Homo sapiens: one gene and its partner. The protein of the gene in region 2 interacts with the protein of the main gene of each other region in a pairwise test. Each region holds a gene or a part of one and is shown on either strand. Other genes may lie near its edges.

Evidence for each region.
Region 1: the proteins of APCS (region 2) and ALX1 interact in binary tests that used the Homo sapiens proteins (3 or more experiments, as listed by UniProt).

Annotation. Positions count from the first base shown.
Region 1 is NC_000012.12:85,271,524-85,288,812, reverse strand, and holds the start of ALX1 (ALX homeobox protein 1), read right to left. Parts: upstream 8,594-17,289; 5' UTR 8,552-8,593; coding exon 8,326-8,551; intron 5,242-8,325; coding exon 4,937-5,241; intron 1,961-4,936; coding exon 1,832-1,960; intron 1-1,831. UniProt on the Homo sapiens protein: Sequence-specific DNA-binding transcription factor that binds palindromic sequences within promoters and may activate or repress the transcription of a subset of genes.
Region 2 is NC_000001.11:159,579,833-159,595,607, forward strand, and holds APCS (serum amyloid P-component precursor), read left to right. Parts: upstream 1-7,993; 5' UTR 7,994-8,089; coding exon 8,090-8,153; intron 8,154-8,268; coding exon 8,269-8,876; 3' UTR 8,877-9,033; downstream 9,034-15,775. UniProt on the Homo sapiens protein: Can interact with DNA and histones and may scavenge nuclear material released from damaged circulating cells. May also function as a calcium-dependent lectin.

The DNA of each region.
Region 1 (17,289 bases), on a different chromosome or scaffold from region 2:
ATTCACAGGTAGAGACAGTCTATTGTCAGGTTAAAATCTGGCAAGTGGGAACCAAATTGTCTCTGGTCAAATCTGAACTTCACCTTACCTCTTTCTCATTTGAGCAATGGAGACAATTAGTAACACCTAGCACATAAGGTTGTTGTGAGGATTAAATGAGATAATATATGTAATCTGCTTAGAACAGTGCCCAGATATACAGTGAGGGCTACTGTAGTGTTAATAACCATGAAGACACTGCAGTCCCTGTCCTCATGGAGCTTGCAGCCTAGAGGGGAAAGATTTTTACAGAATTTTGTTTAGAAACTAACGGCACTCAAACTAACTCACACTGACTCAACTAAGGCACTCAAAAATATTTGGCAAACAAAATTTGACTAGCCCTATGATGGTAAGTAACCACCAGAGGTAGCCTCATGCTTTAAAATAGGAGAAAACATAAGGTAACCTCTTTAAGATAAATTTTAAAAGAGAAACAAGATTCCTCCTATGGCAAGGAGATAGGAGGCATTTATTGAAAAGGTATCCATAAGAATAGTCTTCTAGCAAGCCATTGGGTAAAGGTTTAGACGTAGCGACCTTTACAGTCTCTCCTGCAGGAACCCACTTGTATGATCACAAACCAATTCCTTAACTCAATTGAGCCCGTTTTCATAACTTTTTTAAAGGAAGGAGTTGAACAAGGTGACCTCCAAGACTTCTTTTATTTAACATATAATATTATATTAATAAATTTGGGGGATTTATCTGGAGGAGTGAGGTTTCTAAAACTGGTTTTTAAGAATCATAAAAGGCATAGGAACACAAGGAAAGAACAACATTAAAGAACTGAATTTGTACTCATAGTGTTGAAGAAAATGAATACTCAAGTTTGGGGTTCAGATCATCTAGTTAGTGAACTATCAAGGTATTTCTCCAGCATATATGTTTCATATGTGTTTTCACATGGGTCTCTTATAATGCATATCATTAAATAATAAATAACAAAATAATGCATAGCTCGTTGCTTATAACGTAGGTTTTTTTTCATCATGTATCAAATACAGTTCTGAATATCATTATTAAGTATTAGGAAAAAGTGACACAAAATAAATTAGAAAGACAAACATTTACATTCATTACAAAATATGAAAAAGAAATATATAGTCTTATATTGAAAAAGAAAAATGAGAAGAAAAAGAATTTCTAACACTTTTTGTAATGAAGTAAAAGAGCACCCATTATAAAGGGAAGCTGTTACTCATCTGTGATTAACTTTTAAAATTATGTCTGATACTAATTCTATCTCTGTTTTAAGTCAAACAGGACCAAATGTGGACCTTTAGAGAATAAGCAATTTGAAAACTGAAAAAAAAAAAACATAGAAAAAGAGACACATTTTTAAATGGAGTTAAGGGCTTAATAGGCCACATTTGACATCAGGTTTTAGTATAGTTCATAAAACAATATCCACAGAGATTGCATGCTAAGCAACACTCTATTTACAGTATTTTTAAAAGTTAACAAAAGGAAGAGAGTCTGAGTAATTAGAATGTAGGATAATTAAAATACCTGTATCATTAAATGATGCTATTTCATTGGTGGCAATATACAACAAAATTCAAAAGAAAAAAATACCCTGAAATATTTTTAAATGAATGACTCTGTAAGAAAACAACAAGAAAATAATTCAGAAAAATTAAAACTTAGCAGACATGAAGAATGTTTTCTGAAGCTTAGATTTTCATTCTTGGCTATTATCTTACATATAATAAAGCCTATGCTAACCATTTTAAGAATATACAAACCAAATATCCTTTTCTTGATCAGTATTCTGTGTAGTTTAGCATACCTGTGGGTAGCTGTCAGTCCTTGGCAAAACTGATATATCATAGGTGGCAGCAAAATGGCTTTTCGCTTGTTGTATTTGGCCATAACGTTCCCTTTTTCTCCATTTGGCCCTTCGATTTTGAAACCAAACCTAATTATTTAATAAAAATTAGAATTTTAGCTAAGGAATATTTGATAAAGCAAATGTGATGTTAAAAGACATCAAACAAGAAAGGTAAACCAGGTTAAAAAAATTACGTAAAAAGAAATGTATTTATGTTAGAAAAGGATCCACAGATTTTACTTTTTCTTGTATCTTGATGTGGTAAGTGATTTTCCCATGAGACAAAATAATTTAATAGAAAGAGGCAGGAGACTTTCGGGAAATACATCTGATACGTCTGAGCCTCTGTTTTCTCATTTATGGAAAACAAAAAGCAATTAGATTATATGATCCTGAATACTCCATATATCTCCACATTGTCATGGATAAGTCTCCTTTAAGAGAATGCTGCAAGTCTGGAAGATGTATATGCCGTAACGTAAACTCAGTCAATCTATAAGCAAATTAATATCTGAGTCTATTAAAACTTATCTTTAAAATATATCACAAAAGTGAAAGCTCTTCTCAGTTGTGCTCATACCTACATAATCTTTTAAAATTTTAAACATAAAGATTACACCTAAATATATGGCAGCAGCAGGAACATCATGATTATCTAGAAATAGGAAAAAATGAGATTACATATTATAATAAGCATGACAAGAATTATAGGTAAAAAGGAATCATCTAAAGTTGAACTATGGTTTTAAAATACGTGAATGTGCTTATTACATACATTATGCAACTTATTTTCCCTTATGAAAATGCTCGGATATCTTTACGTAATTTCTCTAATTTAAAGCACAGGTAATGGAAATAATATAAGAAATAGGGCAGATAGAACCAAGTGTCAAGAAAGTCTATCAGTTACTGTGGCAGCTAAGGTCACTAAGCTATCTTCCACAATTTCTCTAATTACCTATTAGAAGTATTTATTATAAGAACCATCTTCCTCAGCAGGTTGGATATTCATTAATTCATACCTGTAATATTCCAATATCTTCACTTTAATATTAAAGGGAGATGCAGAAGATTATATTCAATATATATACTTGGATGTTTTTAAATGAACATTATAGGAGTAGCTTTTGGGAATCTAGTCTTCTTCACACAATTATGTTCAGAATATAAAATATTTAGGAAAAAGGCTAGAAATCAAATATAAAAAATGCAAGTTGTAAAAGCCTTTTGTTGAAGTTTACTTGAAATTTTCACTCTTTTTCATACTCAATTCTAATCTTGTATATCTTTACCTTCACCATTATGGCAACATATTAATACTCAGTTTAATTTTTTAGTACACATTACAAATTTAAGATGGCACTTTGCAGAGTTTTCAGCAATTGAAATGAGCCAGAGAGCTACATGTTCATTATAGTTTTAGTACACTGCTGATAAATGCATATTATCCATTATGCCAAGGCTCAAGACATCAACAACAACAAAAAACAAATCAAATTTTCTTGCTGTCTCCGCAGATGAGCCCCAGGAACACACTAAGGGAATTTAGTAATACGTTTTTGGGTTTTATTTTTTTTTCCATTGACAAAAAGAACTTGACAATTTCCTTAAAATGAGTAATAGTTACCACTCTTATGTGCAAAGCAGGAAAGAGAACGACCTGAGTAAATTAAGTTCAAGTTGGCTCTCTGTGCATGTTCTCAGACAAAAATTAATCAAGACTTGGTGAATGTTAAGGGGAAAAGATGCATTATGTACAGTTGGTCACTCTGTGTGCAAACATATTTGTTTATGGTTACAAGTATAACTAATTTAAATATAGACAAAGACAAAAATCTCAAACTTACACAGCGGGTGTTAATACTCGACAATTCTAAAATTCTTTGTTAGCATGAACTTTCTACATATTTACTTCCTGAACCAAGATAAAGTAACCATTTGCTTCCACAAACTCAAGTAAAAATCTGCTGCTTGTTATCCGTGTGCCACCAGATGTTGTCTCTAATGATGTAAGAGCCTTACAATTTTAAGAAGAAATACCGTTACTCGATTTAGAACAAAAATTTTCACTATTTTATTCATTCCCCCATTTTAGCAGTTTATGGGAATTGCAAAAATCAATACTTTTGTAGAGGAGTCAGAACACACACAAAGACCAAGGCCATTATCCTGAATTATTGTTGCATTTTAAACTCTTACTACTTGGAAACTAGTAAAATATAGTTTAAGAATATCAAATGTAGTCAAAATAAAGTACTCCTAAGAGGTAAAATTTTACCTGGTATGATTTTTCTTTCTCAAATTATTTTTAAAAATTAAGCATATTGGATCATCCAATTTAATAACTAGAATATATCTTATAAACATAATTGAGTATACACAAAAATTTACTTTAAAGCCATTATTTTTATTGCCTATGCAAAATTCATATGATTTATCTAGACTTTAACCATTATAATGGAATATTTACATGTTGACAACTACTAGGACTATAAAATTGTAAATGAGCACTATTTGATCTTGTTTTTAATTATCCATAGTGAAAACATTCCATGGTATACATAACAATTGGGAATTTGTGGGATTGTTTTTTTTTTTATTATGCCTCCAAATCTAGAAATTTCTAGATGTATGGGCTATTATACAAATAATTTACAAATACCTGATATATAATCTAAAAAAGAACCTTAGTGGCTAATAAAACCGAAAAAAAAAAAACAAATAAATATACCAATTACTAAATAGTCATGATTCTGCTTTTCATCCTTTAAAAACTGCTTTTGAAAATCAGAGATATATTATCATATTGTTATGTTTGAATGATTGTTAATTTTTATGTCTCTGTAATAACTTGTGTTCTTTTGTTTTACATATTGCGTGAGTTGTCAAAATTTTTGCAATTAAAAAATAATTTTAGTAGACATATATTCATATATATTACTCCGTTTCTCATCTTCAGCTAGGGAATCAGTTTGTTTCTTTGTGGCAAAATGCACTTATTCAATTATTCTAACACCATTTATTTTCCTATCCCATCCATCAAGGCCTCTTTTTGGCTCCTACCTGGACCCTGGCCTCAGTGAGCTCTGTCCTCAGAGCAAGCTGTTCTCTGACATACACATCCGGGTAATGAGTTTTCTGAAAGACTTTCTCCAGCTCCTCTAGCTGCAAACTGGTGAAGGTGGTTCGGTGCCTCCGTTTCTTACTGCTGGATACATTGCTATCACATTTATCCCCAAGTTCATCCAGCTCTCCCTTCTCTTGCATCCCTTTCACGGGAGACATTCGGAGACTGTTACAGTTGTCCATAGCTCTATTCAGTTCGGTGTGAAGGGGCTGTCCTTCTACTTTAGTGATCCCATAGTTCACTGTACCCAGAGGAGGAAAAACAACAGTTCTCAGGATTGTGAAACTCATCTCAATTAAATCAATAAGTAGAAGTAATTGAGAGTATCAAGAAATTGGCCTATTAATAATTTATTGTGCTAGTATTAATTCAATTACCACATTTCTATACTTAATTCATTGTAGGACAGGTTTAAATACCATTTTAAAATGTGTTCATGCAACTGCTATGATCTGCCAAAATCCGCAGTTCTATTTTACAGGATTTATAAGTTTATGCACATGTTTTTTACTTAAATTCATGTACTCGAATTAAAAGATGATCTGGGTGTTTCATGAAAGAAACTTTAAGTGTCCATGATTTTTGAAAACTGAAGCAAATTTAATGTCATGTGTTTTATTCACAGCAGATAAAACCAAGCTACTAATGTGGCTCAGAAAATATATTTTAATCTTAAATAATACCTCTGTACTAATATCTGAAAGTTATTATCCTCCTCCACGTAAAACGTACTGATGATAGATTTCAGATGTGACATTATTTCCACTAAATTTTGAATATTTCAACTTTATATCCATGTCTGCATTTACACTTTTTCTTCAAAAATAATCTACTAAATTGACAAAATAAATTTCATGCCAAATTTTGAATACGCTTTCTATCGGAAATTAGATTTAAGCAGCATTTTTTTTTTTTACCTAAAAACTTACGCAGTTCTTTTTAAAACATTTCATATTTCTGCTTAGCTAGTTAGATAAGTTTTGGGATTGAAAACTTTTCTATTTTCTCTGCTGAAACACAGAAATTAAAACAGCTATTAAAACATTACAGAGCATGACATCTGGCATTCTGTTAAGGGATGTTTAATTTCAGTAATTTTCTTCAGATTTGATTGCATGCTTGCAGTGTGATATAAAACAAAGATATATCATATAATGCCAAACACCCACAAATGCAATGGATGCACATAGTGAAATGGGAAGCACTTTTTAAAAAGTAAAGTCAAACCAGCCAGAATAATAATTTCCAATAGATGATCATACTTTTTTCATTTGTTTCTTTTTTTAAAATTACCCCCATAATGTATTTTTACAACTCTTTTCATCATTATACAAATATATTCAAGTTTAATGCGCATATAACTTCAATAGCTAATAATTGAGTACTGTGCATTTCAATGTCACTAACGGAGTAACTCTCAAAAATGTTCTCATAATAAAAAATGTCAAATATTTGAGGTGATGGCCAATTAACGTAATTTAATCATTCCACATTGCATTAAAAAAACTTAACATTACTTTGTACCCCATAAATATATACAACTATAATTTGTCTATATATATATATAACAAATTTTTTAAATTAACGGTTTTCATGCAAACGAAGATGTGATGTTAAACCAAATATAAAGAAGAGCCATGACTGATTAACAAACGGTTCTATCTCCTTGGGCAAAATTAAAGGGGGAACTGCAGCAATTAGGGATGGGGGAGGGGAAGCATCAGAGAGGCTAAGGGCATCTCAAGAGAAAGACAGGATCTCTCCTAAATTAAGCGGATGACTGCCTATGTTCATCTTCCTTAACACTTCTTTGTTATAATTCATCTTAATAGTGTGATATTTGTTTAAAAGTTGATAACGCATCAATTATGTCTCTTATTTTGGATTCTCGACTATTCAAAATAAAATATTATGATCAAGTCCATCCAGAGTCAATACAAGACATTGCAGAATCATTAAAGAAAGACCTGTCAATTCAAATAACGTTAGGCATGCACCTAAGAATTCCACAAATACAGATACCAGGTCTGAAACGCAGCCAGAAAACCAACAACTCAGTGTAAGAATAACAAAAAGTATACGCTCGAATCTTTCTAAATAAATGACTGAAACGACTTAGCTGATTATTTTCTCTATCATTTGCACCTTTATTTTTGATTTACCCTTAGTCAAAAGTTACTTGCAACGTTAAATAAAATTAGTTAAATATGAGATTAATAAAAGAAAAAAACTTGTGTTCAAAATATTTAGAAAATGAGCTTCTACAGGCCAGTGTTTTGTCAGATTTTGAATTTCTATAAAATAGGGGGCAGGGGGCTTGTTGTAAATATTTCACACTTAATTCGTTTGTTATTTTAAAGCAACCCGCCCCTTATAGCTTAACTGTGGAATATATACAATGATAAGGAGAAGTTCTCTTGGAATTGTAAACGTGCTTTAGCTGTCGCGATCTGAAATAATAGGTTAGTATTAGGTTACAAGATAGAAAAGATAGATGGTTTGTTTTGATAACATTTTGACTTGGAGATACTTGGGCATTCAAAGTTGAAGATTTCACCCAGAAGCATTCCAAAGACTCCTTAGGTGACTTTTAATGTGAAGTCATAAAAATACAAAACGTAGAATCTGGGAATGAGTGATTAGGCCGGGGATGGTTTGCCCGAAGCTATTTAGTGTGCTTTAGTGTTTAACAAACATTCAACGCGTGTTGTATTGCAAACGCAAAAAAAAGCAGAAATTACAAATTCACACACGCTAGAAATCTAGGGATCCTCAAACTTTGAAAATATATCGCCACGTCTTGGAAAATTAAAAAGATTTATCTTTACCTAAAGGAGCTCAAAGGGTTTTTTGTTTTTTGTTTTTGTTTTCCGGTTTTTTTTTCCCTACTCGTGACGACAGTGACGTACTCTAACGAGCTGTGATCGATTTCAGTTCCTACCGCCCGGACTGCAAGGCGGGCTCGCAGAGGAAGCGTTCTGTCTTGACTCAATTACGCTCTATTTAGCGCCCTATCAGTTTACTCCAGGAACCAATATTACAGAAGGACTCAGGGATCCGTAGGCGACCAGACCCTACAGCGAAAGGAGAATCGCTCAGAGGCAACCCGGTGCTGGATCTCTCCCTCCCTCCGCCCTCCGCCCCCAAAGGCTGCAGCAGCAGTAACACCGCTTCATAAAGCGAGCACCTTCCACTACCTTCCTCCACCTTCCAGGTCCCTCGCTCCCACTTTTCTCCTTTCTCCCTCCCTGCCTGATCAGACCGATCCTGCATTTTCGATTGCGGAAGGGCTGCGGCGGCTCCGGCTGGGGCGCTAGCGACTCACCGCTGCTGTCCTGACAGGGCGAGGTCCTCTCCAAGCGCACGTGATGCTCGGCGCGGGGCAGGGGTCCGAAGGCCTGCACGCATTTGCCTGCAGACGCTTTGCTGTAAAAGGACTCATTGTCCAGCGTCTCCATAACGTGCTCCAGAGGACCTCCTGCGCCCATGTAAAAGTCACTGTTTTTACTCGGAGGGCTCTTGAGGGCAAACTTCTCGCTCAGAAACTCCATAATCCTGGAAGACTGTCGCGTAGCTCCTGGGGCACAGAAACTGGAGAGCGCTGGGGGAGGGAGCCAGTGGGTGGGAGGAGGGAGGGCCAGAGAGGAGGGAAGGGAAAGCGAGCGCTGCGGCGTCGGGAACTGCCCCGCTCCGGTCCCTTTAATACGTCCCGGCTGGAAAAGGAGCACCCGAAGTTGCTTTTATATCTTGAAACTCAGCTGGCCTCCTCGGGCAGCCTCCCAGTTCTAATGAATATGAAAATAGGCGGGCGACTAACTCCACCCCAGGTCCCCCTCCGCCCCTACCCCACCCCCATTTTCCCCACTTACCCGGGCAGAGGGCGTCCAGGCCTAGGATAGACAGACAGACAGCTCCATTTCAGACAAATGCCAGGAGAGACGAGCCCCTGACACCCAGATTCATTGCCGCCGTGACAGTGGACTGGCATTTCGGAAGATCTTGGTGAGATCGCAAAGCAGTTAAACCTCCACTCCCTACTGCCTGCGCCTTCCTGAGCCACCCGTCCCCACCCCGCCCCCATGCCGGCCACTCACTACCAGAAAGATTTAGAGGCGTCTTAAGAACTTGAAAGGAAATATTGCTCTAAAAGGCTTTTATTTCATCCGTAAATCGTTTACGTGGAAGATTCACATTAATCCGAAGCCCAAGGAACCAGATGCATTGGCAACTGTTAATCGCAGCCGCCGTAGTAGAGGGGCCGCTTCGGCTTCTAACCGGGAGGAGCTCGGGGTCCGGGCCAGCTGGGAGCTTTACGAGGCCGTGGCCTTTTCTTTTTCTCTGGAATGCGGCGGAGTGTGGACGCGGTGGCGATGGGTGGGAGAGAGAAGCCGAGCAAGAGGCAATGAAGCCATTATACTAATGCCAACCAATTCCCTACACCCTCTTCGCCACCCTTCCCTTTGGTCCACGATTTTATCATTAGACCCAAATTATTTTAAGAAAACCCGTTAGGATCAGTGCCTTTGAAAGGCTTTTACTCTAATGCCAAAGTGAGGATTGTTACAAATAGGGGTTTATGAAGAAGAGGAATGTCTGCATATTTTTACAGAAATTACTTTTAATTTTAAAGAGTTGCTGTGGAGTTACTCCGAAAAGCGCTCTGGGAGTGAGTGGTGAGCGCGCGGAGCTGCGGGCACTCGCGGCGCGGCGTCCTGGGCGCGGACAGGTCCAAGGCCTCCATTTCCACCAGAGGGGATGGTAGGGCAGGCAGGACAGCACTGCTAGGTTGAAAGCCCTTCTGTGTGACTTTTGGCACGACTCTTGGCTTCCTAGGAGCCCGCGGCGCTTGGGGGAAATGCGTTCGGTGCCCTGGGCACAAAATCGCATTTGCGTCAGGCACCCTAAGCTAGCAAATTTGGTGAAAATAAGCCAGACAGGTTTTGGTCCAGGTAGGCCTCTGCTTAGACGTCCTGACACAGCCTTTGTCAACACTGGCACTCACAGCGGCCGTCGCGTTTCCCCAGACAAGTCTGGCAATTATGGTGAGGCCTCGGGCAGGCCGAGCAGCCCGGACTCTGAGGATGGTGAGGCCAAGCCCAGCTGTGGTGGGCATGCTGATGGGTTTGAGAGTTTCCACCTTCTGCGGGGGTCTTAGCTGACCCACGCCTCTTTGGTGAGACCTTCTTCGAGACCTGACCAGGCCTCAGCCAGAGAGTAACAATCAGGGAGGGCTGTGCACCCCGGAGCTGCTCCTTAGCGTTGCGCGAAAGGCAGGGTCGGCCTTAAGCACCCAGATCCGACCGGCGGATCCCGAGCAGATCAGCTGGCAGCAGCAGCCTTGCTCGCCCGGCCAAAGTCCAACCCAGACTGTTCTCCCAAGGAGGCGCACAAGCTTAGTTCACATGGCGCAGCGCTCAGTGTGGCCTTGAGCGCGCACTCAGATTCAGGCAAGTGGACACTATTCCTGGGACTAACTAGCTTCTGCTGTATTATTATTACTCTCTCCAGAGCAGTGCTGCAAGAACCAACTGCAGATTGTTAAATTTCAGGGGAGCAAGGTCAAAGAAAAGCACTAGGGACTGAGCTTCAGCAGGAAGCCAGGCTGCGTCGGGCCGCAGGAACTCCAAACCAGACAACCTGGCATTCTGAGGTCAGGCCCAGGGGGAGAGAGTGAGGTGTCGGAAGAAGCCATTGAAACGCTCTTCTTAAAGTGTCCTGTAGCATCCCGACCTTGCGTGAGCAGTAGCCTCAGCTCTGCGTTCTTTGGACACTTTCCAGCGGGCCCCCGGGCAGCCTTGTGGAAACGTTGAGTGTTGCGTTATTCACTCACTCCTGTTGGGTTAGCCATTTTCGATTCTTTCCTATCCCCTTCGGTACCTTCTTATTTTCAGGTATCCTGAAAGTCTGACTTTCTCTACTAAACACGGGAAAGATAAGAAAATGGTCGTTTAATATGTTTTACAAAAATTCACAGCAGCAACAACAACACCTATTGCTGACTTGAGGAAATATACAAACTAGTTATCAACCAAGTTATCTTGTAGAGCTCTGTCAGCTTGTTTATAAATATATGTCTTAAAAGCCCTAAATTTCCGGAAAAACATTACGTGTCTTTTAAATGAAAGACATGTGATACAAGTTCTAGGATACTTGTATGCCAATAAAGGTCCAACTCATAGAGAAAAGTACAGCGTAGCCAAGGACAAGAGCTGTCTAGTAAACCCGTTTCTGCCCCATTACCAAAACTCACTTTTGATGGTAATGGTTGAAGGGGTGGGGTGTAAGGTGTCACCAAACCAACATAATATCCCTGGAGCTCCCTGGAAACTCAAATATACTACACAGAATCCCGTGTGTTTTGTGACATGTAACCACATGTGCCCATAACAGAGGAAACAGCTAATGGCAAACTCCCATAACGAATGTTTAATCTGCAGTTTTTGGCAAGAAGCTGGGTATTTGGTTGCCAACAGCTGCATTACATGAATTTTGAGAGGTTGAGATGGAGTTTATGGTTATGACACAGCTCTAGAGATAGGGGCATTAATAATACATTGAAAATAATACTAATCAAAACAATAATAATTCAATAATTTCTAAAAGTCACAAGAAGGGAGAAGAAATTACATTGGAGATGGTCTCACTTTCCCTGAGATCTACCTGGGCTTTTTCCACCAATGCTTTTAGGATAGCCTTCTTGGAAATTGGCCACAGTACTTTGATAAATGCTTTCAGCCGTCCAGATCCAGCTTGGCTCCTACCACCACAGCTTTTAAAAGTCCTCCTCAATTCCAGCAAGTCAGCTTGGCCCAGGCCTCAGGGGCAAGTGTGTTCTGAGGGGTAATCAGCTCGCCATATACATATATATATATACACACACATACATATACATATATATATACATATATATATGTATATATATATGTATATATATATGATCCAGTTTATTAGGTCAGGTTCTAGTTGGGGTTTTATCTCCTGGGGCCTCAGCCCATCAACCCCAGGCATCAGTTTTCTTCTTTACCCACTTATTTTGCCTTTGAGAGTATTGTTCATCTTTTTCCATATTCAGGATATAAACCCAGGATTCAGCTTTCCTTCTTTTATGTCAGTCAAGATATCTAACTAGAATAAGCTGCTGTGCATCCTTTTCTGATTTACTTCCTTCAGATCTGAACTTTCTCGATGGGCACTAACACTTGCAGGAAGTGGTGGGGTGAGAGAGGAGGTAGGAGAGCAACAGAGGTGGGGAGTCATTGATTTCTTTTAAAACCTAACAGAATTTAGGACATCCTAGGATTTCAGCACTTTTGGATCTTCACTGCGTATTGATGCTTCTTCACATCTTCTTGATGGGGATGAGGAGCAGTGCCTGTGGGTGAGGTGTAGGGCGGGGATCAGGAGGAATAATGAGGGTTAACAAGGCTATTACAGATTCAAGTCTCAGCCTCTCTGAAAAACTTTCTCCTCTAGTAATTGAGATGTGTTGGAGCAAACTTGATCATTCCTCTGGCACCATGGGATCCTAACAGAGAGGGGGAAGCTATTTTGTGAAGATAAAGATGACTGATGCTACCATTTGAAGTGACATCTAATATTATTCCTGCGACCAGTTTGTTGTTGTTGTTAGGTGGCAGCTCTCCCAAACAGTGATTTGGGATATTTTTAAAGTATTTTTTTTTTAGTTCCCATTTAGAGCCTAGAATTAAAATAATCAAAGAAGTTAAAATTATTAGAAAGTCCATTGAAATGAGTATTTGACCCTCCCCCACCCCCAAAGTAGTGCTTTATTAGAAAGTAAAATTCAGATAAAGGATTCGCAGGTTAAGGCATCTTGACTCATTTTACTAAAAAAGAAAAAAAAAACCTCACAGACTAAAAGCTGCTTTTAAAGCCAGTCATCCCTTTGAAAATATGTTTTGGGAAATGAAAAAAATATTTACATATGCAGCATTAAAGCAGTGGTAGAATAAATGTATAGACCACTCTAGTTTCTTCTGATTTCGACTTATTGAGAGAAATGTCACACTTACATACTAATAGTGGGAATGTCAAGATAGGATTGCTAGGATTTTAGTCTTAGCACTTCCTTTTTGCAGTGAGAGTTTGAGGCTTATTGTAAGTAGAGCAAGGAAAAAAATGTGTGCTGAATCAGGCGAACTATGCCAAATGTAGAAGAGCAATGGTCTGAAGAGGGGAGGAGCTGGTGGAGAGAAACTTTCATGAAAAAGTACTAAAATAATTGAATGTCATGTAGCATGGCAAGATGCCAGGTGGCCTCGTGTTTTTGTGTGCTCTGCTGCTGTTTTCCCTCCCTGCCTTCATCTTCAGCCTTCCCACAGCTCTGCAGACATAACAGATACTGAAATATATTTTGCATCAAAGCAGCTCAAGAGGTTTTCATCAAAATAAAAATATTTGGACACACAAAGAAATATTTAGGCTTTTCTTTAAAATATATGCCCAATCCACCATCATCTACTCCAGAAAACACACCTACAGACAAAAGTGTAACTTTGTGAGATTTTTGAAGTTTCTGCCTTTAAAAAAAATTACACAGATGTTAATCAATGTTGTAAGTCTTTAAAGTATGCTGCTGCAAAGCTGTCCAGTATGATGAATTAAATTTTTACACTTATTGTAATAATATTATTAAATGTTTTGGTGTTTCATAAACTTCTGTTTTTTCAAAAAGTGATACTTGTTTCTGAATACCAATGTGTTTCAATAATAGTTTTTCACACAGTTGTGTTTTCTTAAAAGAGAGAGAAATAAACTTCTGTTCTCCTAAAGGATCCAATTTAAATGTAAAAATACAGTATGACTCCTTGACCTTGGTGCAAATATCTTGATTTATCTAGCATATGTGTGCACATTACAATAGACATTGTTTGCTTTTACTATAAAATGTATTTTATTCCAAACTTTAAAAATAATTTATCTGCAATAATCTAGTCACCTTTATTTCTTTCTATGGCTGTCGTCATTTTTCCAGGAAGTTCTGAACATAATAAAGACCGTTAACGCTAGACTTCCTCTATGACACATATAGAAGTGCATAAGTAAGTTAAACTGTATTCAATTCATAGACTGGTATTTCACTATTAAACTATTAATCATGTCTCTAAAACGTTTTTCCACTATTTTGTTTGATAAGTGAATTGTTAAACTTCTACTCGATATATTTAAATACATTTTTTTCCTGCTGAGTTACTAGGTATGTCTGAAAGACAGGGCTGCTTATTTTCAAAAAGATGTGCGTGCGTATTCACTCCTTGAGCTTTCCCATTTCAGGGAAAGACTTCCTTAAAGAAAAATCTCAGTAAAGATAACTGAGACAAAATCATGGATATTTCTCCTTTGGACTGGAATTATGCAACGTAAATGTGAAGTCCGTGGTCATTAATCAAACCCGACCAGAGTATAGCCAATATACAAAATCAAAGAGAGTCGAAGGAGTGAAGTAGATTGGCCTCCCGTAAGTTCTCCACCTACTGTGCCCCTTCCGTGCCCATTGATACCTTTTATATCAGGACAAGAGGCTAGGGTTTGGACCCCAAGGTGTTGAGCTTAGAATGCATCTCATTGTGGCCATGAAAACGTCTCGAAATCTAGCTTATCCTCTGTCATGGTGTTTTATAAGTTCAACAGAAAGAGGAAAAACACAAACACATTTATTACATCAAGGATTATTCAGAGAGAAAAAAAGAGGGAGGAGAGAGCGCCAGCCCCTTTATTTCGAAAATCATCAAAGAACTTTAGAGAAAGGTAAAGATTAATATTCACTCCTTTTTTCCTCCCAACCTGTCTTGCCTATCCCGAGCAACACAGATTTCTGAAGCGAATTTTGATGAGTTTTAAATACTATCTGTCGTAATGAGAGTTTCGGAACAAAAAGCTCTCTGTGGCTCGCAAAAGGGAAGCCGAGCTTGTGGGACACCCCTCCTAGGGGTGCAGGACCAAGGGCTGCAAGCGGTGTCCCCGATCGCGCTGAACCACTTCCCAAAGCCTGCGCCCTCGCCCAGAGACAGCTGTAGACAGACATCTCGTTAGCCCTTTCTGATCAGGAACTGTGAACAGGTTGTGTGCGCAGCAAATTTTTGGAGGCAAATTGGTGCACCCCATTGCCTGGGTGGACCGCCGCTTGGTGCGCACCTCGGTGAAGGACCACCTTCCTGGCTCCCGGCCTGGAGGGAGCCATGAGCGACTGCCGTGCGGGACGTCTGGAATGAGGACCGGCTCTCCACTTCAACCAAGTGGGCGAAGTCCCTTACAATCAAGAACAACTCTGTGGTTAAACGCGCATAGGTGGAGGAGTCTCTATTCTGAGCAAAGAGAATGAAGTTTCGCTTCTCATGGAAACTTAAAAGAGCCTCGACGACGAATATGGAAAGGAGTTAGTGGTTAACCGATTTGATGCTAACATTTCATCAGTTGTGTTTTCACCCCTTTAAAGTTTAACCCTTGGAAAAACAGCATATTTTAAGCTTTCCCTCCAAATATTGATGTTGGCAGATGGATCATCTAGCCGTCCCTTGGTAAGGACAGTGCCCTTTTTGTTTCACATGTTGGCAATCAGAATTAATCCATATCACAAAATGCGGCAGATTTCGACTTTAGTCAAGAGACATGTAACTCTCTGACAGTAAAAAGAGCACGCCTGCACACACACACAAACTTGGGGGGACAAATTGGGGGTGGGGGGAGCGCCCGAAAGTAGCTCATACCTCACTTTTAACTACCTGTCCTCAACAAGTAATGATCCACTCCCCCGATTTAAAAAAAAAAAAAAAAAGCCAGGTTTCAGCCTGACTGCCAATATTTTCAATGCCAGGCCACGGTAATGTCTCTTCTTAAGATCTTGTTCCACACAGTAAAAAATTCTTAACCTTTACTGGATATTTTATGTCCTTTTTATTAAACAAAGTTGATGCATTACCTCTAGCAGGGTGGCGCCCTGGGCATCCGAAGACCTCTGTTGAAAAGCCTCAGAGACCTCATGGGATTACATCATCTTTCAGTTTCCAACATCAGATGCCCCCAAATGGACCCTCGTTATAAAATCCTAAAAAAATTAAACACTTTCTTACCTTCACACTTGCTCTCTCAGTTCACAAAACTTCATGAACGCACAATTTATTAATACAGTTCAAATATAATAAGCAATTAAAATGTTTCCTGCCATTCCACTAAACAAGTATTTTTAAGTTACCAAAAGAAAAAAAAAAGGCTTTAAAGAATACATTTATTTCCATTTCTTTGTGAGGTTTCAAACACTTTTTGCAATATTAAAATTACTATAAACTAAGTATTTAAAAAGGACTTGTTTTGGGTTCATTTCTGATTAATATTCTTGAAATTTTTTATTTTACACTGTATTTGATTCATATATGCTATTTTTGGGGAGAGGTACACAGCCACTCTTTTGCCACATTAGGAATTGCTTAATAATTGAATTGAGTTGAATTAAGCAAAATCTAAATAACCAATTACTCTGTTTTGAGTAGAAATGCCCTTTAATCTTGCATTCTTTTTTAGGTTAATAAAACTTTGAATATTTAGCTTAAAACTTAAAAAGAAACATAAATATTGGCAAATAAACTAAAGAAACTTTACTAATTTTTGCTTTTATGAAATAAAGTAGATCTATATGTACTGTTTCATTTAAGGTATATTAGCTTCTTTGGGCATCTCTAACTACTGGATCACAGTTGAGGCAAACCATATAGGATATAAAAGTGTCTCTATGGTACGTCATGCAACTATTTAGTTCTAGAGGTGAACACCATGGAATCCTGTAAATCACTTTAAAAAATTTCTTCAGGTATCATCCATTAAAGGTGTACCTTTATCCAATATTTTCACCAAAAACTTAAATATATATATTTTGTACTTACTGTGTTTTACAAATTATGCATTCCTAGGTTGGCCATCTAAATCTTTAGAATACCACAACAATTGGGATGCAGATATTTTGGGCAAAGGTAGCATGATAGGATTAAATTAATGGATGCAAACCCAAAATTGCAAATTAAAGTTAAAAAATATAGAGAAGAAAAACAAAGCTTATGGGGTTCAAACAATAAAGCTCTGAGGATATTTTTGAGTCTACAGCATGACTTAGTTGCTAAGGAAGCTTAAAAAATTAGCTTATATTACATTAACAGAAATGAAGCAGTCACACATCAAGGAAGACCAGATCTTCAAAATACACTGAAATACGAAGAAATCTAGAGAATTAAGAAGAGCTCTGGAAACTATTTTTATAGAGAAAGAATAATAATATGAA
Region 2 (15,775 bases):
TGGTGGCCCCTACCATTATCACCACTGATGGAGCCTAGCCTCTTCAAATACATTTTCTATCATTCTCTCCTCTAGTCCCACCTCTCTATCTCACAGCACTCCTTATCATTTCTCAAACAGTTCAGGATTTGACATAAGCTTTTGTGTTGTTTTATGATAATTTTGATTAAGATATATTTATATGTGTATTCATGTAGACATATACTGTTGCAATACAAAACCTCTTACTGTAATTTTTTGTCAAAACAGTTTTGCAAAACTCTATTCCAGAACAATAGATTCTTACCTTTGGTAGATCAGAGACTTCTTTGAAAATCTGGTGAAAAAAAACATTTGCAATATTTTGCACACAATTTCAGAGAGTTTACAAACCTACTGAAACTCATTCAAGAACCCCCTAGGGACCTAGGAACTTCAGCTTCAGAATCACCCCGAAGGCACAAAATGTGCTGATTATCACTGAGGCATTGATTTCACCTATTAACATACACAGTTCCACCAAATGAGAGAAAAGGGCACCCACTATACCTGGGGCCCTCGACCTCCAGCAGTCTGTTGGAGGGAGAGAAGATCACAAGTGACCAAAAATGTGCCTCAGGCCTGCTTCTGTGGTTACAAAAATATATATAGCAAAAGTATAAGACAGAAAATGGAAAGAGTTTACCTCGGGCTGAACTAATAATGAGTCACTTATTCCTGAAATATAGTAGTGTATGAAATAGATACTACTATACCTGGGCTTTGGGAAAGTACCTTGTAGCTCTGTCTCACAGTGGATATACATGACAATTTTCTTAATTACACATGTAACTACTCACCAGGAAAAAGTGTAAGATATGAGCAGAGAAGAACAATTCAGAAGAAAAATTCTACTAGGAAACACAAAAATAAACTTTAAGCCGCTTATCCCACTACCTCTCACCCACCCAGAAAAAGGGAAAATCAGTACTTGGAGTTTTAAATGATTGAAAATTGTGGTCCACGCTTAGAGAAGAACAACCAAATCCACTTACCCAAAATAAGCCACCACTAATCAACAGTTACCATGCAGCCACTGTGGAATTAATAATTCCTAAAAGCCTTCAAGGAACAAGAAGATAAATGTTTAAGAAGAGGAAATCCAGATGAAGGCACCATTCTTTGAGAAGAGCCACCCATCTGTTCTCTTTCTTCTCAGCTTCTGGGGCTGCAGCAATAATGTGGTTTTAAAAAGTCTTTGTTTCCTCCCACAGAAGTAAAGGGTACTTCACCTAAACACACACTATTTAAGTGGCCAGTGGGGACAAATTCATGGAAAGAAGGACCTCTCTTTGCTAAACTATTTATTTTTCAATCAGCACATGGTAAGGAAAGCCTTTTTGAAATGTCAATTAAGGGTCATAAAGCTGAAATCACGGAGCTGCAGAAAGTCTCAGGTGGTCCCTGGGATTCTTTAACTGAAGTCACTGCTGCCATTATCATCAGTAGTTCTGCTCCACTCAAAGACAAAAGTCAAGCACCAAATGGCCAGGTAAAGTGGGAGCTAGGAGGATTTTCAATCAACTCGCTCACACATAAAAATAAGTCATCAAAATGCTCCTGGAGTGCCACTCGCCTCTGCAGTAATGTGCACCCTGAGCAGAAATCCTAGATTCTGCCTTCTTTCTAGAAGTAGAAAAGCAGTCTAAGTGTTTGAACCAATTCACAACAGAACTTTCTATTTGGTCTTCTTATGAGATGAAAAATGTTTATGAGCAGGAAAAACATTGCCCTGGACTAAAGGTCTCCTGATGAAATGAGTCAATCTGTTAAGAAATATTTCTGTCCACAGCTCTGTACATGGTATCCTTGGCCTCCATGTACCTCAGAGTGTAAACAACAGTGTCCAGAGGCAGAATGAATGATGATAATGTAGGTCTCTTATAGAAGACCTGTTTTCTATTGAATTCATTGGCTTGTGCTTGAGGTAAGCAGTACAAGCACAGACATATAGACAATGACCATGATGAGGTGGGGGTTGGGGGACACAGGTGGCAAAGACCTCAGATTAGGAAATTCTAAGCACGATGGAGGTAACAGGGATGTCAATATAGGAAATGCAAACCAAACCCATGGACACCTGCACACATGTGTGGTGAATAAAATACTGTTTATTTCATAGATAGTATTGTCAATGCAGGAGAGTTTCATGACAAGAAGGGTGTCAAACAAGAAGCAGTCTAAATAGCATATGTGCTCCTTTTGTACCTCTGTGACACTGTGGTTATTTAGACCACTGTCATGATCAGGCCAATGCAAAAGGCACCACACGCCAGCTGGGCACATGCCCTCTTATTCACAAAGACTGTGCACTCCAGGAATTCCCAGACAAATACACAGCAGTCAATGGTGGTCAAGATGGCAAAGATCATTATTTGTAATTCAAAAGATAAATGCTTGAGGGGATGAATACCCCATTCTCTATGATATGCTTATTTCACAGTGCATGCCCATAAATATATACACCTACTACATACTCATAAAAATTGTTTTAAATCTTAAATAAATTTTTTTAAAAAAGAAAGAAAGAACCCAGAAATTAAAAAAAAAATGACAAAGACCAAGAAAATCTCCTGGTTCTGAGCTATGAGACTAGAAAGTATTGTAGAATAAGGATGAGTGTATAAAGTCACTGAACTAACCAACACTCTCAGGAAAACATACATGACCAATGTGGGTGAGACTCAAGATGATGGCATTCCCTGCTGAAGTTAAGATGTGGATGACATCATTCACAGAAGCTGGAGACAACCAGCAAGGTGAACTTTGTCAGCTTCTGTGAGGTTCTTTCTTTGTATTTTGAAGTTTTAGGGATAACAATAAAATAGATCAGCATAAGAAAACTCTTGTGCTGCCATGTTTCTGTCATGAGCAGAAACATGGCATAGTTGACAAGATGACAAGAGTAGCGCAAGACAGCTCTAGCCAAGACCTCTTGTAGCTGCACGAGCAAGGAATCTGCTTCTGCATCTTCAGTGCATGTATTCTCTATCACTGTGGACTGGAAAATATATTCCTAGACACAGAGAAGGGAACTTTTAAACATACTCAAGATACAGAGTTACACTGAGTCCCTGCTGTTACATTTTTCTTCTTTGCACATCTCCTCCCAGAAGACTCAGGTATTATGAAGGGATTGTGAACAGCATGAAGATGGTTGTGGCCAGTGGGAGTCTGAATGGTAAATTTTATTTAAAAATTTATATTTAAAAAATGAATAAACATTAATCTCAGCAATGAAATCTATATTTTATAAAACTATAAAGATGGGTTGTTCAAAAAGAAGTGTAAGAGTGAAGGGATGTCAAGAAAGATAAAGACTAAGATACAGATATGGTGACATTCCAGAGAGCAGTTTCAGGTGAATTCTGAACTTAAAAGTGAGATTTCAGTGAGGTAATATGGTCGAGGTGTCTCACTAAACCTAAAAGTAGAAGATAAAAAAAAACTTAGCAGAGATTTTCTTTTATAAATGAACCCTGAAATTAGGAACAGAGAAATGAGATCAAGAAAAGACTCTTGTGTATCAGCATGACCTGGAAAGTGACTGACAAATTTGTGAAGCTGCCAGAATTGTGAAGGGGAGTTAGGAGTTCACAGCAGCCTGAGCCTGGCATTTAGAGTCTGAAAGAGCTACTTTGGTAGAAAGGTCAGTCATAATCTCAGGTGGACACTGATTTTTCTCTGTTGTTGGCTGAAATGTTATTAGGTAGGCAACAAAGACATGATAGCCACTCTGTCAAGAAGAGACAATCTATAAACTGTGTGGGAAATATGCATTGAATCCCAAGTCTCCTGTGGAGAATCTTGTTTCTCTCCTTTTGTTCTTTGTCAGAATTACTGAACCTTAGGAAACAAACTCCCTTCCTCTTTCTCCCTCCATCATTCCCTGAAACTTGGCTTCTGACATGCTCACTTTATGAAAATTACTCTTTCAAAGGTTACGACTGAAGTTTTTATTGCTAAATCCAGCATGCATTCAACTTAGATCTCTCTGATGCATTTAATACCACTGGATACTGCTTCCTGGACACTTACACTGACTTGGTTTCCATGACACCACACGCTATCCTCTCTGCCAAACATAATTTTTTGTCTCCCACCTCCCTCCCCACCTGCCATTCTTATCTTGCCTCTAACACCATGAATGTGAATGTTTCCTCAAGTCAGTGGTTGGCTCCCTGACCTTTCCTCTCTTCTCTTTTCCACTGAAAGACAAAATTCATTTTTGTTTCATTATCATTTATATGTTGATTTCTCTGAAACCTGTATTTCTAATTCCAAGTGGCCGTCACATATTACAAATTCTCCAAGACCTTTCTTACACATAAGTCATACTATCATTTCAAATTTAGCATTTGAGGAACCAAGTTTACCACCTACCCTCCACCTCCTCCAAGTGAACATCCTCTCAATTGTCCTATCTGTACTGGCAGCACCATATTTTTTTTCCACATGATTTGCAGTAAGAAATATGGTTCCATATTCTATATATATATTTTTAATTCTCATCTTTGTCCTTTTTTGCACTTACAATAAGACCCTGCCATCAGTCTAAGTTGTGTATCTTTGGTTTTATCCAACCACATATCAGAGTGATAATCAGTTACTCTTGATGCATGCCTCCATTGCCTCTTTCCATCTAAATGCTCTCAAATTCCCTTACAACTGACAGAACACACAGCAAATAATTCTTTACTGAACACAAATCTTGTTCTACTCAGTCTCTTCCTATCCAGTCTTTCCCATTGGTTACTGTGACTTAATGTCTTCTACAAACACCTGAGGTCTCAGAAACCATCTTTAGGTTATTCTTTAATCCCTCAGGTGATCTCCAGTTATATCTCATACTTCTGCTTTTTTGAAGCTCCGAGTCAGATCCTCTTTCTGCTACTGCTGATGCCTTCTTCCACTATGCTCTCTGAGGGTAAACTTTGTTGCATGCCAATTAATGTAGCCAAGACAACTCTGTTTGTGGCACACAGGTGGACCTGTTTCTCTTCAGCATACTGTATCTTTTCTTCCCCCAGCCTCAACTCTTCCATAGCCATCCAGACAGGAGCCGCCACCTTGACCTGAACTTTCACTGGCAGGATGGCACCCAGGAGGATCCAGCAACAGTGAGGATTGGCTCACTGTGAGGATTGCACCCAGTTCTGAAGACCCAGGATTCATTTTCCTACATCCTGACATCAGAACTTTTCCTTTCTACAATAAAAATAATTCTCAGTTTCCTCTTTGACAACTCTTGAAGTGCAGGCTGTTCTCTTCCAAGGCCTGAGAAGCATATTCTGGGGAAGGAAACTAGACAACAGAATCAGACTCCACTTTTTCTCCCTTTTCCAATTATACTGTAGACCCTACCTTCCAACCAGGGTTTCCTTTTCACAGTGTATAACACAACATTTTCATATTCAACTGCAAACCCTTGCACTTGGCCCCAACAGCTATCTAAAGCCGTTATCTCCAAGCTCTCCCACCATGAGTCTAAGGCTGTGTCACTTATCCCCAAGACCTGTTCCCTAGGCTTATCTCCCATTAGAGAAGACTCTCTTTGATATTAATTTGCAAACCATTTTTTGTTAAGATAATGATTATTTATTTATTTATGAAGAAAACTAGAAGCATCTGGTAAGCCCTGTGTTCTCTGAGTTTTATGGCACTTATTAATTAACATCTGGAAATGTTAGGGAATTGCATAGTCCCTGGGTTCTCAAGAAATGTTACCTTCCTGCTCCTACTTCCAGTATTACCTTATCATATTATTCAATTGTATTCTACTTTTTGTTGCTAATAAACTGTTTCTTGTAAAAAAAAAAAAATCCTCACACAAAGTTGAGTCCTTTGATTCCACAATATGTAACAGTTTCTTTTCATGTGTAAGAAAAATTGTTAGATGAAACCAATGATCTAAATATAAATAAGTCCTAATACCCAGATTCAGTCTAGAAGGGATTCAAGATAAATACAATAATATCTATAATATGAGACAGATAGTGGTAACAGCCATAAAGGCTCTAAAATGATGGTAATAATAACCATCCAGATACTGTTCCATGTACTTTATGTATATCATAGTATCTCATTTATCCTTAGAGAAACACTGTGAGGTAGATAGTTTTATCTTTGTTTCACAGAGAAGGAAACTAAGGTTCAGAGGGGTTTAGTGACTTGCAGAATAGTCAGCCACTAGTAAATGGCAACATTGGAATTCTATCCCAAAGTCTTTGATCTTAACCTTATGGGAAGTACGAAAGAGGGGAAATAATGTATAGTTGGGATATTAGAAAAGTCTTCATGAAGCAGATTGTTTTTTATTTTTTATATTTTTGTATAAATTCAAGGCATACAAGTTTAGTTTTATTACATAGACAGCAATAACATAATAGTGAAGTCTGGGCTTTTACTATAACCATCACCTAAATAAGCTTGAGATTAATGTGGAAGAATGGCTGGAATTCCTAGAAACAGGAAAAGAAAATAAGAGAGAAATTCAAGACAGTATGAAGGCACTGAATAGAAGTAATGAAATCAAGAAAGCCAGGAAGGTATAAAGAACAACAATTAGAGGTGTTTGACTGGAGAATAGGATTAGATTCTGAGATAATAGCCAGGTTAGAGCCAGATTGCAAATGGCATTGGCTTCCAAGCAAATGGTCTGTATTTAATTCAGGAGTCAATAGATGCATAATCCCAACTTTATCACTAACCTATACTGTGCAACAAGCCAGATAAGGCTTCACAACCTGGGATTCCATTTAGAGAAAAAAAGTAGAGAATGGAAACTCCCCAGGGATGAGAATAGGAAGGATACTTTGAACAATGATAGAGAAAGTGTATTCTTGGTGGCAGTGATTGTGTCATTGAAAAGGCTGATTAGGTCTGTGGTGAGCTAACAGAAGAGAGAGTGAACAAGAGGCTAAACAGTAGGATGAGAAACAAGACACCATATAATTCAGGGATGAGAGAGAAAGAAATAATGTGGCTAGAAAGAAGAACTTCAGTTTGATATCTCAGAGGCAGAGAAGGTTTGAGTGGTGGTTAATAAACTGTACAGAGAGAGAATGAAGGAGACATAGAAAGAATGAAGGTGGAGATCTCTGGGGCTGTGAGAGAGCCAGTGACCACTGAATCCCCAGCACCTAGTGTAGTAACTGAGAGCTAGTGAATAAATGTATTAGTGGGGTCATCACCAAAGATGGATTAGATATACACTCAATGACCAAGGACTCAAAGAAGAGGAGAGAAAAACTTGGGGAGATGCTGACATCTCTGCAGGTAGCATGAAGTAACCAGAAAACAAGTCGTAATGAGAAATGGAAAGATCTAGGATAAGGAAGCACCATGATATGCAAACGAAAAAAAAGCACTGAGTAGAAGTAGCAGAAAAATACTAAGCTTCATGGGGACAGAAAGTTTATTCTCCAAGTCCCTCTTTCCCCTTAGCTTTGCCTGGATGTATTACTTGATGTTGAATTAGTCAAAGTTGAAGGCACTTTTTAGGGTCTTCAGCAGAAAGCAGAATCCTAGAATATCCTACAAATACAAGACAACTTGAGAACTATAAAAGAAAGAAAAGGCCTTGTTCCCATAGCCCACAAGAGGGCTGAGCTCAGCGATACACTCTGTGTGGCTCAGGAGCTTCTGGCAGAGCACAGAGCCATCAGAGAGGGGGCCCAGAGAGCAGAGAGAGGCTCTGCTGACATGGCCAGCCCAGCGCCTCATCCCATCCATAACCCTGCTGCCCTGCAATGACTCTCTTCCCAGCAATAAAATCTGGGTCACAGGAGTTGGAGCTCTAGCCATCACTTGTCTCTAATAAATAACTCCCATTGATTTTCCAGCTCAGGGCTCACCACTCCTTCACCGTAAGCGCCAGGAGGCAGACCTGGAAAATCACTCACATATTATTGGTGCTCTTCCTCCCCCATCCTCACCCAAGGTGCATATAAACCCTGAATAACCTGAAGTCTAAGGGCATGAATATCAGACGCTAGGGGGACAGCCACTGTGTTGTCTGCTACCCTCATCCTGGTCACTGCTTCTGCTATAACAGCCCTAGGCCAGGAATATGAACAAGCCGCTGCTTTGGATCTCTGTCCTCACCAGCCTCCTGGAAGCCTTTGCTCACACAGGTAAGGAGGTGAAGGAATGGTCAAGAATCATAAAGTGAGAAAATAGGTTGAAGCTGAGATATCTTTTCCCTGCATTTATACTGAAGGTCATTATCTTTCTTTCTTTATCCCGCAGACCTCAGTGGGAAGGTGTTTGTATTTCCTAGAGAATCTGTTACTGATCATGTAAACTTGATCACACCGCTGGAGAAGCCTCTACAGAACTTTACCTTGTGTTTTCGAGCCTATAGTGATCTCTCTCGTGCCTACAGCCTCTTCTCCTACAATACCCAAGGCAGGGATAATGAGCTACTAGTTTATAAAGAAAGAGTTGGAGAGTATAGTCTATACATTGGAAGACACAAAGTTACATCCAAAGTTATCGAAAAGTTCCCGGCTCCAGTGCACATCTGTGTGAGCTGGGAGTCCTCATCAGGTATTGCTGAATTTTGGATCAATGGGACACCTTTGGTGAAAAAGGGTCTGCGACAGGGTTACTTTGTAGAAGCTCAGCCCAAGATTGTCCTGGGGCAGGAACAGGATTCCTATGGGGGCAAGTTTGATAGGAGCCAGTCCTTTGTGGGAGAGATTGGGGATTTGTACATGTGGGACTCTGTGCTGCCCCCAGAAAATATCCTGTCTGCCTATCAGGGTACCCCTCTCCCTGCCAATATCCTGGACTGGCAGGCTCTGAACTATGAAATCAGAGGATATGTCATCATCAAACCCTTGGTGTGGGTCTGAGGTCTTGACTCAACGAGAGCACTTGAAAATGAAATGACTGTCTAAGAGATCTGGTCAAAGCAACTGGATACTAGATCTTACATCTGCAGCTCTTTCTTCTTTGAATTTCCTATCTGTATGTCTGCCTAATTAAAAAAATATATATTGTATTATGCTACCTGCATTTGTTTAGTGCTTGTCATAGTCCCATATCTTTATCTTATGTCTACTACTTATCTATCTACTAATTGGTGTTTCATTGGTAATTGGTGTTTCATTATCCTGAAAACTCCAATTGCCAAGTACGGGGAGGAAAACCTGTAAGTAACTAGAAAGATATATCACAAAGCCAGAGCACTCAATGAGCACAACAGTGGCAATACTTAAAAGCTACTAACAATCATTTTAATGACGATTCAAAATATGTGTGGAATTGTAATCACAATTCTCCTATTTGTTTTTCCAGCTACAAATCGATCAAAAAGGGGTCTGAGGTTGCATCAGGTAGACAACTATAATGATATAAGTAAGCAATAGTTGAGAACCTGACAGCAAGTAATAAGACAGGAAGAATAAAACTAGAAGAAGTCAGAATGAAAACCAAAAAAGTATGAGACTGGGATCATTTTGTATGAAGACAAACATAACTTTATGTCTCAAAAACCTCAGTAGGACTGTACAATGCTTGATTTTCATAATGTTCTCTTGATGTCATCAAAAAATATTATACTCTGAATATTGCTCACATGAATATGCTGTCTAAAATTCTTCCATGGATTCACACTTCTTACAGGACATGATTTAAACCTCTAAATATGACATTGCCCTCTATAACCTGGTCCCAGTTACTCTCTCTGAAATGTACACAGAGAGTATACACAGAATACTCTCTGAAATGGACTTTCCATGTACATTTCAGATACAACTCTTAGCAGAGCAAGCCACATCCTAACTATCACACTGAAAAATAATTGTCAGATGCTATTACTAGTAGTTATTTTTATGGTTATGAAAAGCATGGAACACAGTGCCTGGCACATCGTCAACAGATATAAGTTGCATTCCCAGAGAAGCAAGGATCCCAGAGGGAGTTTGAGCTACATATATGGGAAATAAGACAGGCTTTTCTCACTGATAATAAGTAGAGCATGTAGTCAGTGGAATCAGAAAGATAGCATCCAGAAGCTTCAGGATGGTAACCAATGTCATGATTTCAAACTCATGAGGCCATTTGGCCAGAATGAACAGAGGCAGTCACCAGATATGAAGAAGTAGGATAGAATCTGGAAACTCCATAATGGGACAATGGGGTGGAAGCAGAGGAGAGCAGACAGAACCTGGGAAGATTTGCTGAAGTACTTAAATGGAGCAGCAGGGGCTTCATAAGAACATTTCAACCTCATTTCTGGTGAGGTGGTATGATGGTTTGGATATGGTTTGTTTGCCGCCACCACACGTCATCTTGAAATTTTATTCCCAATATGGTGTTGTTGGAAGGTGAGTCCTAGTGAAAGGCATTTGGGCTATGGGGGTGGGTCCCTCATGAATGTTTTGGTGCTGTTCTTACGGTAATGAGTGAGTTCTCACTCTTATGAGAGTGCATTAACTCTTGTGGGATCAGATTAGTTCTTGCCAGATGTAGCTGTTATAAAGCCAGGATGTCCCTTAGATTTTGTTCTCTTCGCACATGTTCACTTCGCCTTTGAATTTCTCCACCATGTTTTGACACAACACAAAAGCCCTCACCAGAAGCCAGAGGCATGATCTTTAACTTCTCAGCCTGCAGAGCGATGAGCCAGATAAACCTCTTTTCTTTATATATCACTGAGTCTCAGGTATTCTTTTATAGCAACACAAAATGGACTAAGACAAGTAGAACTTACTTAGAACATTGAGTTGGTTAGGTAGACAGGGATTTTAGCAATATGAGAAATTATTAATTTCTGATTGACAGCTCATGAGTTAAGGCTTGCTTTACGCTTTCTCAATATTAACGACCTTTCCATAAACTTGTACTGTGAGTACTAGAAAGGTCTATCTATTCTTGCATAACAGATATTTCTATCATGTTCACTAACACTGTGTTTTGGTTTAACAACCCCTTTGCCTAGGAACCCAAGACAATTTTAGAAATGAAACCAGTGTACTTCCAAGTGATATAATCCATTCATTCAACTATTTATTGAGCAACTTCTCAAAAATACGCCAGGCAATGCCAGGTACTGAAAATATAATATTGAATAAAACAATCATGGTGCTTGCTATTTTAGAATTTACATTCTAATAAATCTGTGTTAACTACATGTGGGTTTCTCCTAACAATAATCAGGCTGTACTGTAATCCATCTCTCACATGTTTAAGCTTTCTTCTATCTCAGGTTGATATCATAGTCCACCTCTCACTTTCCCCTAAGTTAAAGGTATTATTTATTCTTGGTGATCATTTGCAACTACTTGCATAGATCTCAGGATACAGTGTTTGTGACAGGTTTCTTGTTCTTGTGAACCCTCTGCCTCTTAAAATGGCTCTTTTGAACAGAATCCAAAATGACTGCATGTAAGCTCTTTCTTCTATGTTGTCTGTATTTCAGCCAAAAGAAGCACTTATACATCTCTTGTCCCTATAAATTCTAGAAGTCTCAGATGGTCTTAATATAGACAACTCTTTCCTATTTACACAGTGGTTGCAGCTTTCTCAAGTCCTTTGAGTCTCCCAATAGCAAGAGGGATATTTCAAGCTTCCGCAGTGATTCCACAGAAGCCCCCACATTAGGCTTGAGGTTGGGTAAAGAAGTAAAAAATAATAATCTTCTCAAGATACAAATAACATAACCTAATACTCCCTCAAAGCAGCAACAACAGCAAAACAGCAGCTCTCTGCAAAGAAGTTCTTTGGAAAAGTTCCTTCCTATCTCCACATTCTGTCTTCTTTGGGCACCTTGTTCTAGCCAAAAGGTAGAAGAGTTGTAGAGATGGTTCTTAATCATTTCCTTCATGAATTCTTTATTTGAGTGAATCTGTGTATATTATTTTTATCATTAATATCTATCATATTGATGGCTCATTCAAAACTGAAGACAGTCCATTTTAACATAATTTATAATAGAGATGGTGATATGGTTTGGCTGTGTCCTGACCCAAATCTCATCTTAAATTGTAGTTCCCATACTCCCCATGTGTCGTGGGAGGGACCCAGTGGGAGGTGATTGAATCATGGGGGCGGTTACCCTCGTGCTGTTCTCATGATAGTGAGTGAGTTCTCACAAGACCTGATGGCTTTATATGGGACTTTTCCCCCCTTGCTCCACGATCCTCCTTCCTGCCACCATGTGAAGAAGGACATGTTTGCTTCCATTTCTCCATAGTTGTAAGTTTCCTGAAGGCTCCCCAGCACTGTGGAACTGTGAGTCAATTAAATCTCTTTCTTTTATACATTACCCTGTCTTGGGCAGGTCTTTATAGCAGCATGAAAACAGACTAATAAAGATGGAATTTCTGGTAACGTCATCTCGGCATTTTTCTCAGATACAGTTGTTGTCACAACAAAGAAATCAGCAAAAGTCACAGAGGAAACTACTTGAATAATTCAGAATCTATAAAGAAAATGGAAGGATTTGGAGGTGCAATAACCCAGGAACATAGTTGTGTAGTGATTTAATAATTACAGAGATAATCACGCCCTTTCCCATACTTGCCACTAAGGCTGTTAGATACTAGGGGACAAGTAGTACACAAGATGTACAATAAGTTGCTAAAACCAGGAGTCATCTCTAATAAGAAAAGCAATTTTTGAGTCTCTATCTTATACAAGTAACGATCTGATTCTTATTTTTGACTACAGAAAAACAGGTAAGAGCATTTAGCCACATAGCTTCAGGACTGGTTTTAACAGAAGTCCATAAATAATTTTCCTGGATGAGAAGGCTTGCAGGTAGTTTTCTGTGAGTTTTGTGTGGGAGACTCTGGGTGGAGCTCTGAGATTAAAGCAATGAGGCCCCTTAGCTTGGGATATGCCTTAGCTAAAACTTGAGTTGAAGTGGAAATTTAAAAAAAATATTTTATCTGCACTGGATAGGATCAATGTATAGTCACATTTGGAATGCAATGTGGAGACTTTTTAGGTATTCATGAGACTTTGCATTGTTTAGAAATAATAGGTGTCCAAGACCATTCAAATGACAGAAGAAAAAATGAAACATGACCTGAATTGTCTTTAATCCTTATCTTGTCAAGACTAAATAGCTGATTATCATATAAACTAAACTCCATTTGTATTCCAGAATTTTCTATCTCCTTTTCATCTGGCTGGCTGTGGCCACTTTTCTGAGTTTAACATGGGAGATACCTCAAGAGACCACCGTCGAGTTCGGGCACTGGTAAAGGCATCTGCATCATGTCACATTCAACCACAGGATCCAGAAGCAAAGCTAATCTAATGTTATTGACATATTTCACTGAAGCCCATAATCTATGAGGGGTTCACACAGCTGTGCCTGGGGTGAGATGTCAAAGACAAATACTTCATCTAGAGCTCCAGCTGTTGCAACAGCTTCTCTCAGTATCCTTATGGGGATCCTATGAGGATTCAGTATGACAATGCATACAAAACACCTACTCAGTCCCTGTTCTGGCACAGTGCAAGTGCTCAGTGATTGTTAGCTGTAATTATGAGGAGGATGATGATCTAAAATGTAATCACCTGCCCTAACTTCTTTTTATATTCTGACAAATCAAAATGAGCACTCATGCTCCATTTTCAGTTCCTACCCCCAAAACTAATTTTTACCTAACAAAACCAATGCATGGCCTCTGCTAGCAGGAGAAATGATGTAAGCTCTTTCTATATACAAAGAGAGACACCATATCTGACTTTTACACGAATGTATTCTCACTGACAGTAACTAACCAAGGACCAAACACTAACAGGGATTCAAAAGAAGAAAAGATGGTGCCATGTGACAACATATCTTCAACTGAGTTGAGCTACTTTTTTCCCTGAAGAAACATAAGTAGCAGGCCATGTGAGACCAAAGCTTGCTCAATATTCCTAGTGTGATCTGCTTGTAATGAGATCCCCCGGCTCATTTCTGGATTCTCATTGTGCAGACCCAAGGGAGACATGGTAAGTCTCTTGACAAATTGATGCAGTGACTAGAGCTAGACAGAAGAACTTCTCCTCTGAGAGTCTCTTCCTAATCACAGAGTTTAAGGGGGCAGCTCTTCTAGAGCCAAAGCAAAAAGGGCCAAACGGACTCTGTGAATGTCACCCTGTGCTTTAGCCAGAGTCCAGTGAAATGTAAGTGACCCAATAATCTAATAAGGCTGAGAATCAAATAAGGCTAAACTTTTAAAGACATCAAGAGTCTGTCAATTATTTTTCCAGACAAACAATAATCAGATTTCCTAGAATTGTAATGATCTTTTGTAAATTAGTCACAATTATTCTAAAACTGAACACAGATTCCACAGACTGCAGAAGGTGGATGGACACTTTTGGGTCTGAGAAGGCTTCCATGCAAAAGAAAAGTTATTATTCTCTTATTTATTCAAATAGCTCTCGTAATCATCAGTTTCTTAAGTCATTGAGTCCTCCTTCCCTGGCTCCTTAGATCTATTTTGTTTAAAAAAGAAAGGAAAGGGAAGGAAAATAAGGGAAAGGAAGGGAGGGGATGGAAACTCTACCAAAAAGGCAGGTCACTATTTTTTTTAAGTGTGCAATTCCTTTACACACAAAATATATTTATAGAAGTTTTGCCTACCTGCATATTTTAATTTTTTTAACACAGATTCTGTTTCCAGCAACAAATTTTGCTTATAAAGACCAAAATATTTGGGGGCATCCATGGCTGTTGTAATAATTTCTTCCCCTTGCAAATGGCATTTCCTTTACACTTTCAAATTCTGTTTTCCCCTCCACTTTATTTTCCTTTTTCCTCTGGTAGGAATATTGACTTCATGACTAACATTTTGATGCATGAGCACATTTCAGTATTTTTACTCTCCCACAGGGTTTTTATCCTTCTGGAATGTATAAATCATTTTGAAAGCTTCTTTCTGTTCTATACTGTGCTTTTGAGATTATCCACTGGCGTGTTCCCTCTACAGAAACACCCTTAGGGTTCAGCCAGAGAAGGTCCAGATTTGGGTGGTAGAAGGGCTGCTGCTACTGTGCTCAGCTGCACTCGCTTCTGGCTGGGTGGAGACTCATAAAAAGCAACCAGTAGAAAAAAAAGAGAGAGAGAGAGAGAGACAGAGAGAGAGAGAGAGGTAGCCATCTGGTGCTAACATAGCCCTTAAGTTCACTGAGACACATTCTAACCACTGAGAACTCACCCTGGCAAACCTCCGCAGGTGAGACCAACCCACCCATTCCATACATTTCTTTGGCTCCATGGTACCCTCTGGGACCTCTTCTCCCTTCCCAAGCTAAACGTTGGTGTTCATTGCTCCCTGATTTTGTGTGTGTAAGGCTCTAAGAAGACCGAGGAGAACTAACAATGTGATTTCCTCCTGTGTCCCAGACTTCCTTATCTCTCTCACCAGGGCCTTCCTCACTTCCAGGGACAGTAACAGCTGTGTATTTGACATTTGAGCCATAATTTCTAACAGTAATAATTTTAGATTGCTTCTGCACCTCAGAAAGTGACAGGTTAAAAAATGAGACAACAAGGCAATTGCCCTTAATCTCAAAGGGACTCTAAAACATCGCTGATAGGTAGCGAAATGAAGTGAAACACATAAGAGAACTCCTTTCATGGAGAGTGATGTGGCTGGGAAGAACACTTGGAAAAATCAGGGCGAGCAATGGCACCTGCTCTAGGAGGTATGGATGGCCACTAAGTGCACTAAGTGCACTCTGTGCAGGACAAAGCCCAATCACTGTAGGGCTTGTTTGTTTGTTTGGGCTAAGCCTAGTGTTG